Linked DNA regions of Homo sapiens: region 2 is linked to region 1. Evidence: fine-mapped expression QTL. A gene starts in region 1. The other region holds a variant in brackets. All regions are shown on one strand. Distances are from middle to middle.

Region 1 (2,910 bases):
GGCTAATACTTTTTGTATTTTTAGTAGAGATGGGGTATGACCATGTTGGCCAGGCTGGTCTTGAACTCCTGGTCTGAAGTGATTCACCCACCTTGGCCTCCCAAAGTGCTGAGATTACAGGTGTGAGCCACCGTGCCCAGCCAAGCCATGGACTTTTAAATTCAATGTTTCTCGTTCCAGGTATTTGTCTCCTTAGATATTTATTGGCTTGCCTCAATCATCCAACAAATATTCCCTGGGCATCATCTGTGTGTCCAGTGCTGTGTTAACATCATCGACAGCTGGCATTTAGGATGGACATTTGGGGAGTTTGGAGAATTGGGGAGGTTACACTGTTGCCAGGTGGCAAAGTCTCATCTGATAAGATTGAAATCAGCTCCTCTCATGCACACACTGAACCATAGCGCCTCTCCAGAAAAGCTTAGCATTTTCCCAACCCCCATGCCTCTGACCACTATATTACTTGTGTCTGGAGAGTGCTTTCTCTATCCTCTCTGCAGGACTGTGTTCTCACCTCACCTCTTGGTGGGGAGAAGGCCACCCCTGGGAGCTGCTCTGCCCTGGTACCTGGGACCAGGGCCATGCACCATTGCTTTAGAGAACACCTGCTCCGACCCAGGTCCTGCACCAGGGATTTCCCACCAGCTGAATCAGACACAGTTGCTGTCCTCAGGGAGCTTACAGTCACGGGTCAATAGGATACTGCAGCTAGGATAGCAGTCCACACAGGGCCAGGGCGGGGCACTAAGGAGATGACAGTCATTTCTCCTAGAGAGTCATAGATGAAGTCATATGTCAGGTGAGTCTCGACAGATGAAAGGAAGAGTGTCTGCCAGGTGGACAAGAGGCAACAGCTTGAGCTCAGGAGGTGAGTCAGTGGGTGATGCCGAGAGAGGCATTCTCTTGATCAATTCAAGTGAAAAGCCCAAAGCTGTTTGATGGCTGAGAGGATGTGTAGGTCAACTTAAGGAGAAGAGCCTAAAACAGCTCTGACAAGTAAAAAAAAAAAAAAGGCAGAAGACAAGACAGGCCTATTTTTGCATGTTATAAAACACCGAGAAAAAAATATCAGGATGATTGTCATGGTCTTCTTTACATTTTCCTGTATTTTTCAATTTAAAATAATTGTTGGTGTTACCTGCTGCCCACGCACTCCTCCGTCTGCAGGGGGCGCACCGGCCGCCACCGCTCACTCCTTCAGGATGATGGGCGGGGCCTCCTGGGCCGGTGTGGACTGACGAGTGGCTGGCCGCCCTGTCCATCACGACATCCCGCCCCCGCGCTACGTCACATGACGCAGCCCATCATGGCGGCGGGAGCGCGGCTTCCCAGGCCCGCCGCTCCGCAGGGCTGCTGGCGTTGCTGCTGTTGAGAGGCGGCGGCGGCGGCGCAGGCGGGCGGGAAGGATGGTGTTTCTGCGACTGGAGCGGCAGGTGCGGACCGGGAGCCGGACCGAGGTTTGGCAGAAGCAACGTGTGCTCGGGAGCAACCGGCGCGGGTGCCACTGAGGCAGCGGAGGGAGGCAGGATCGACTGACGGGCGAACGGACGGACGGACGGAAGGCGACTCGAGGGCCGGCCCCGGAGCCGCGCCGTGGGCGAGATGCCGGGGCCGCCGGCGTTGCGGCGGAGGCTGCTGCTGCTGCTGCTGGTCCTCCTGATCGCCGGCAGTGCTGGGGCCGCGCCACTTCCGCAAACAGGTGCAGGTGAGCGGGCCCGCGGCGGGGACGGGGCTGCGGGGTCTTCGGCGTGGAGGGGAGGGGGCGGCAGGGCCGGGCCGGCCTCGGCGCCGAGGAATCGGAGGGCCTGCCGGGGGCGGGAAGCCCAGGGAGGCGAGTGATTAGGGAGATTTCTGCCGCAGGGGCGTGGGATTTGGGGGGGCGGGAGCGAGGCGACGTCGTTGGGGCTGGGGAGGGCGGCGGGCGAGGTAGCAGCCACCGACCCCTCCCGGGATAGGCTGCGGTGCCGGCCCTGGACCTGTTGCCTTAAGATCCTCAGCTTATATCGCTTCCTGGCAGTTCAGCTTCCCTTTCCAGATGTCACCTGCCTCTTGTGCTTTTTTTTCGCATCTCATAAGAACCGTTTCTTAGCCCTAATCATACTTAAATGCAAATGACTTGGCGAGCTGTGCGGAGTTTGTTTTCGCTCCTTGCAACTTATTCTGAAGTTGTAAATTGATTTTAGACGCTGTGCTTTTTATTCGGAATGTATCTCCGGGGATGAGAAGGAAACAACTATAAATATTTCTATTTTAGGAAGCCAGTGATTAGAGTAGCAGGCGTTGAATAACTATTGACAAACTGGCTTAAGGGTGATGGAAGTTTCTATTTTAGCTAACGTCAGTGTATGATTTTCTTTTCTCCCCCCCCGCCCATTTTCTCAACATCGTTTTTATTTGGGGTTTATTTTCCTAAATAAAACTTCAACCCAAGAAAACATCCCAAGTTGGGTCATTTTTCTAAAAAGGAAAAAAAAATCTAGGCTAACTTGGCGTTATTGACTGCCGCCATTACCTTTGAAATGGGGAAAGATTGAAATTTCATACATTCATAGAATGTTAGAGTTAGAAGAGACCTTAAAGAAAATTTAGACCAATTTCTTCTTTACGTAGTAGGAGATACTGGGCATGTTGGGTCAAATGACCTACCCAGGGTGACACAGCTTCGTTGTAGGCAGAGCCCCAAAGCCAGGTCTTAGATACCCCTAGTTGTATGATTTTTTTTAAGTCTTGTAACTGTTTTGGAATACTCTCGAGGTCAAGAGTTATTTTGGAATAATGTTAATTGGGTACAGAATGTGGATGTACTGTCTCCAGTAAAGACATATTTTTCAAACAAATCTACGATGAAAGCTACATGTAATTGCTTCCAGAGCTACATCAGGGTTTGTCATTGAGTGCCCTTTAGTTGAA
Region 2 (2,910 bases), 41 kb before region 1:
AAAATATATAGCCAGGTGTGGTGGCTCACGTCTGTTGTCCCAGCTGCTCAGGAGGCTGAGGTGGGAGGATCACTTGAGCCCAGAAGTTGGAGGCTGCAGTGAGCCATGATTGTGCCACTGCATACCAGCCTGGGCAATAGAACAAGACCCCCCATCTCAGAAAAAAGGCCAGTGGCAGTTGAAAATTATTTATTGTGTGCCTACTATGTGCCAGGCACTGTTCCAGGCTCTTGAGTTTCAAGATAATCAACATAGGAAAAATCCCCTATGCCTCCAGAACTTATGTTCTAATGAAGGGAGACAGACCAAAACCAAGAATGATCAAAGTCAGGGGTTAAGAAGTGCAACAGAGAGGCTGGGCATGGTGGCTCATCCCTGTAATCCCAGCACTTTGAGAGGCCAAGGAGGGTGGATCATTTGAGGTCAGGAGTTCGAGACCAGTCTGGCTAACATGGTGAAACCTTGTCTCTACTAAAAATACAAAAATTAGCCGGGCGTGGTGGTACATGCCTGTAATCCCAGCTACTCGGGAGGCTGAGGCAGGAGAATTGCTTGAACTTGGGAGGCGGAGGTTGCAGTGAGCCGTGATTGTGCCACTGAACTCCAGCCTGGGTGACAGAGGGAGACTGTCTCAAAAAAAAAAAAAAAAAAAAAAAAAGAAGTGCAATAAAAAATGAAATGGTGGGGAGAGGTAAATATAGAGTGTGGGAAAAAGGCTACAAGTAGAGGGTGGTCAGAGAAGGCTTCACCGAGCAGGTGACATTTGAGTAAATACCCAAATAAAATGAAGAAGCCAGGCACGCAGATGTCAGCATGCGGGGAAGGGTGTTCGGGCAGAGGCAACAGCAAATGCAAAGGCTCTGCGATGAGATGTTGGAGAAAAATCCAGCTCTTGTTTTTTGTTTTGTTTTGTTTTGAGACAGAGTCTTGCTCTGTTGCCCAGGCTGGAGGGCAATGGCGAGATCTTGGTTCACTGCAACCTCTGCCTCCCGGGTTCAAGTGATTCTCCTGCCTCAGCCTCCTGAGTAGCTGGGATTACAGGTGCCTGCTACCATGCCTGGCTAACTTTTTTGTATTTTTAGTAGAGAGGGGGTTTCATCACGTTAGCCAGGCTGGTCTCAAACTCCTGGCCTCAAGTGATCCGCCCGCCTTGGCCTCCCAAAGTGCTGGGATTACAGGCATGAGTCACCGTGCTTGGCCTCAATGAAGCATTTTTGAGTGCTATTTATAACATTTATATTTAATATCGGCATCCCTGAAATTAAAAATATTTTATTAATTTTTTTATTTTTTTAATTTTTAATTAAATTTTAATTTAATTAAA[T/A]TTAAATTAAATTTTAATTTAATTAAATTTAAATTAAATTTGAATTAAATTTGAATTAAATTAAATTTGAATTAAATTTTAATTAAATTAAATTTTTTAATTTTTAGAGGTAGGGTCTCACTCTGTCACCCAGGCTGGAGTGCAGTGGTGTGGTAAGCTATGGCTCATTGCACCCCGGAACTCCTAGGCTCATGTGATCCTCCTGCCTCAGCCTCCTGAGTAGCTGGGACTACAGGTAAGCACCACCACAGCTGGCTAATTTTTAAAAATGCTTATAGAGACAGGATCTTGTTATGTTGCCCAGGCTGATCTTGAACTCCAGAGCTCAAGCAATCCTCCCACCTCAGCCTTCCAAAGCACTGGGATTACAGGCATGAGCCACCTTGCCCGGTCTAAAAACATTTTAAGAAAAGCGTGCCAGTGATGGTCCAAGTACATTTGGTAGCACATTAGAGCCTTGTTGCCCTTTGGAAGGATGTGTAACCTGGAAGATGTTGGTGTAGAGCGAGGACAGAACCAAGGGAGCCATTCTCAGCAACAGAGCATTTTTCATAATGCTTTCCGTGTGGTTCTTCTTTTTGCCTAGCCTTGTATACAATCAGTCCCCCTCCCAAAATTGAGAAAATGATGAAAAAAATTACACAAAATGTCAACTGAAGAATTATGAGGTTCACAAATTTGGAAAGGAGAGCTTTATTTCTTACAAAGGGTTGCAGCCTACAGGATGCCATCCCACAGGCTGGGAAGCGTAGCCTCAGGGAGAAGCCAGAAGCAGGTACGTGGAGGGAGGAAAGAAGGAGACAGGAATTTATACGGAACTATAAATATTCAACTATACATATTCAACAGGTGACTATACATATTGAACAGGTTATGGGAGGAGCTATGAATATTCATGAAGAGAGAACATACATATGCCTCATCAGCAAACAGCATGTTATATGCATCCTGTGTTCACTTTGGGCAGAGACTTAACATTTAAATGTGTCACAATGAAGCCCTACACATCAAAAGGTGAAGCAGAGGACACGAAGGCGCTCAGTGTACAGCATCTGTAGACTGGTCAGAACCACTCCATGATCTGTGGTCTCTTCTTTTGTTTTGTTTTGAGATGGAGTCCCAATCTGTCGCCTAGGCTGGAGTGCAGTGGGTGCAATCTCGGCTCACTGCAAGCTCCGCCTCCCAGGTTCATGCCATTCTCCTGCCTCAGCCTCCCGAGTAGCTGGGACTACAGGCGCCCACCACCACGCCCGGCTAATTTTTGGTATTTTTAGTAGAGATGGGGTTTCACCGTGTTAGCCAGGATGGTCTCGATCTCCTGACCTTGTGATCTGCCTGCCTCAGCCTCCCAAAGTGCTGTGATTACAGGCATGAGCCACCATGCCTGGCCTCTCTTTCTTTTTTGTTTTTTTTTTTTTTTTTTGGAGACGGGGGGTCTCACTCTGTTGCCCAGGTTGGAGTACAGTGGCCCAATCACGGCTCACAGCAGCCTCAACTCCTAGGCTCAAGTGATCCTCCCACCTCAGCTTCCCAAGTAGCTGAGACCACAGGTGTGCACTACCACACCTGGTGAATATTTTGGATTT

What was found.
Region 2: its variant is fine-mapped to the expression of LMTK2 in nasal epithelium (TOPMed, PIP above 0.99).

What each region holds. Positions count from the first base shown.
Region 1 is chr7:98,105,576-98,108,485 of GRCh38, forward strand. It overlaps LMTK2 (lemur tyrosine kinase 2), which reads left to right and starts at 1,287. Exons shown (of 14, transcript NM_014916.4): 1 at 1,287-1,705. The coding sequence starts at 1,603.
Region 2 is chr7:98,064,222-98,067,131 of GRCh38, forward strand. No RefSeq gene overlaps it. Among named protein-coding and RNA genes, the nearest start is that of LMTK2, 41 kb to the right of the region's middle. The variant T/A (reference allele first, on the strand shown) is at 1,325.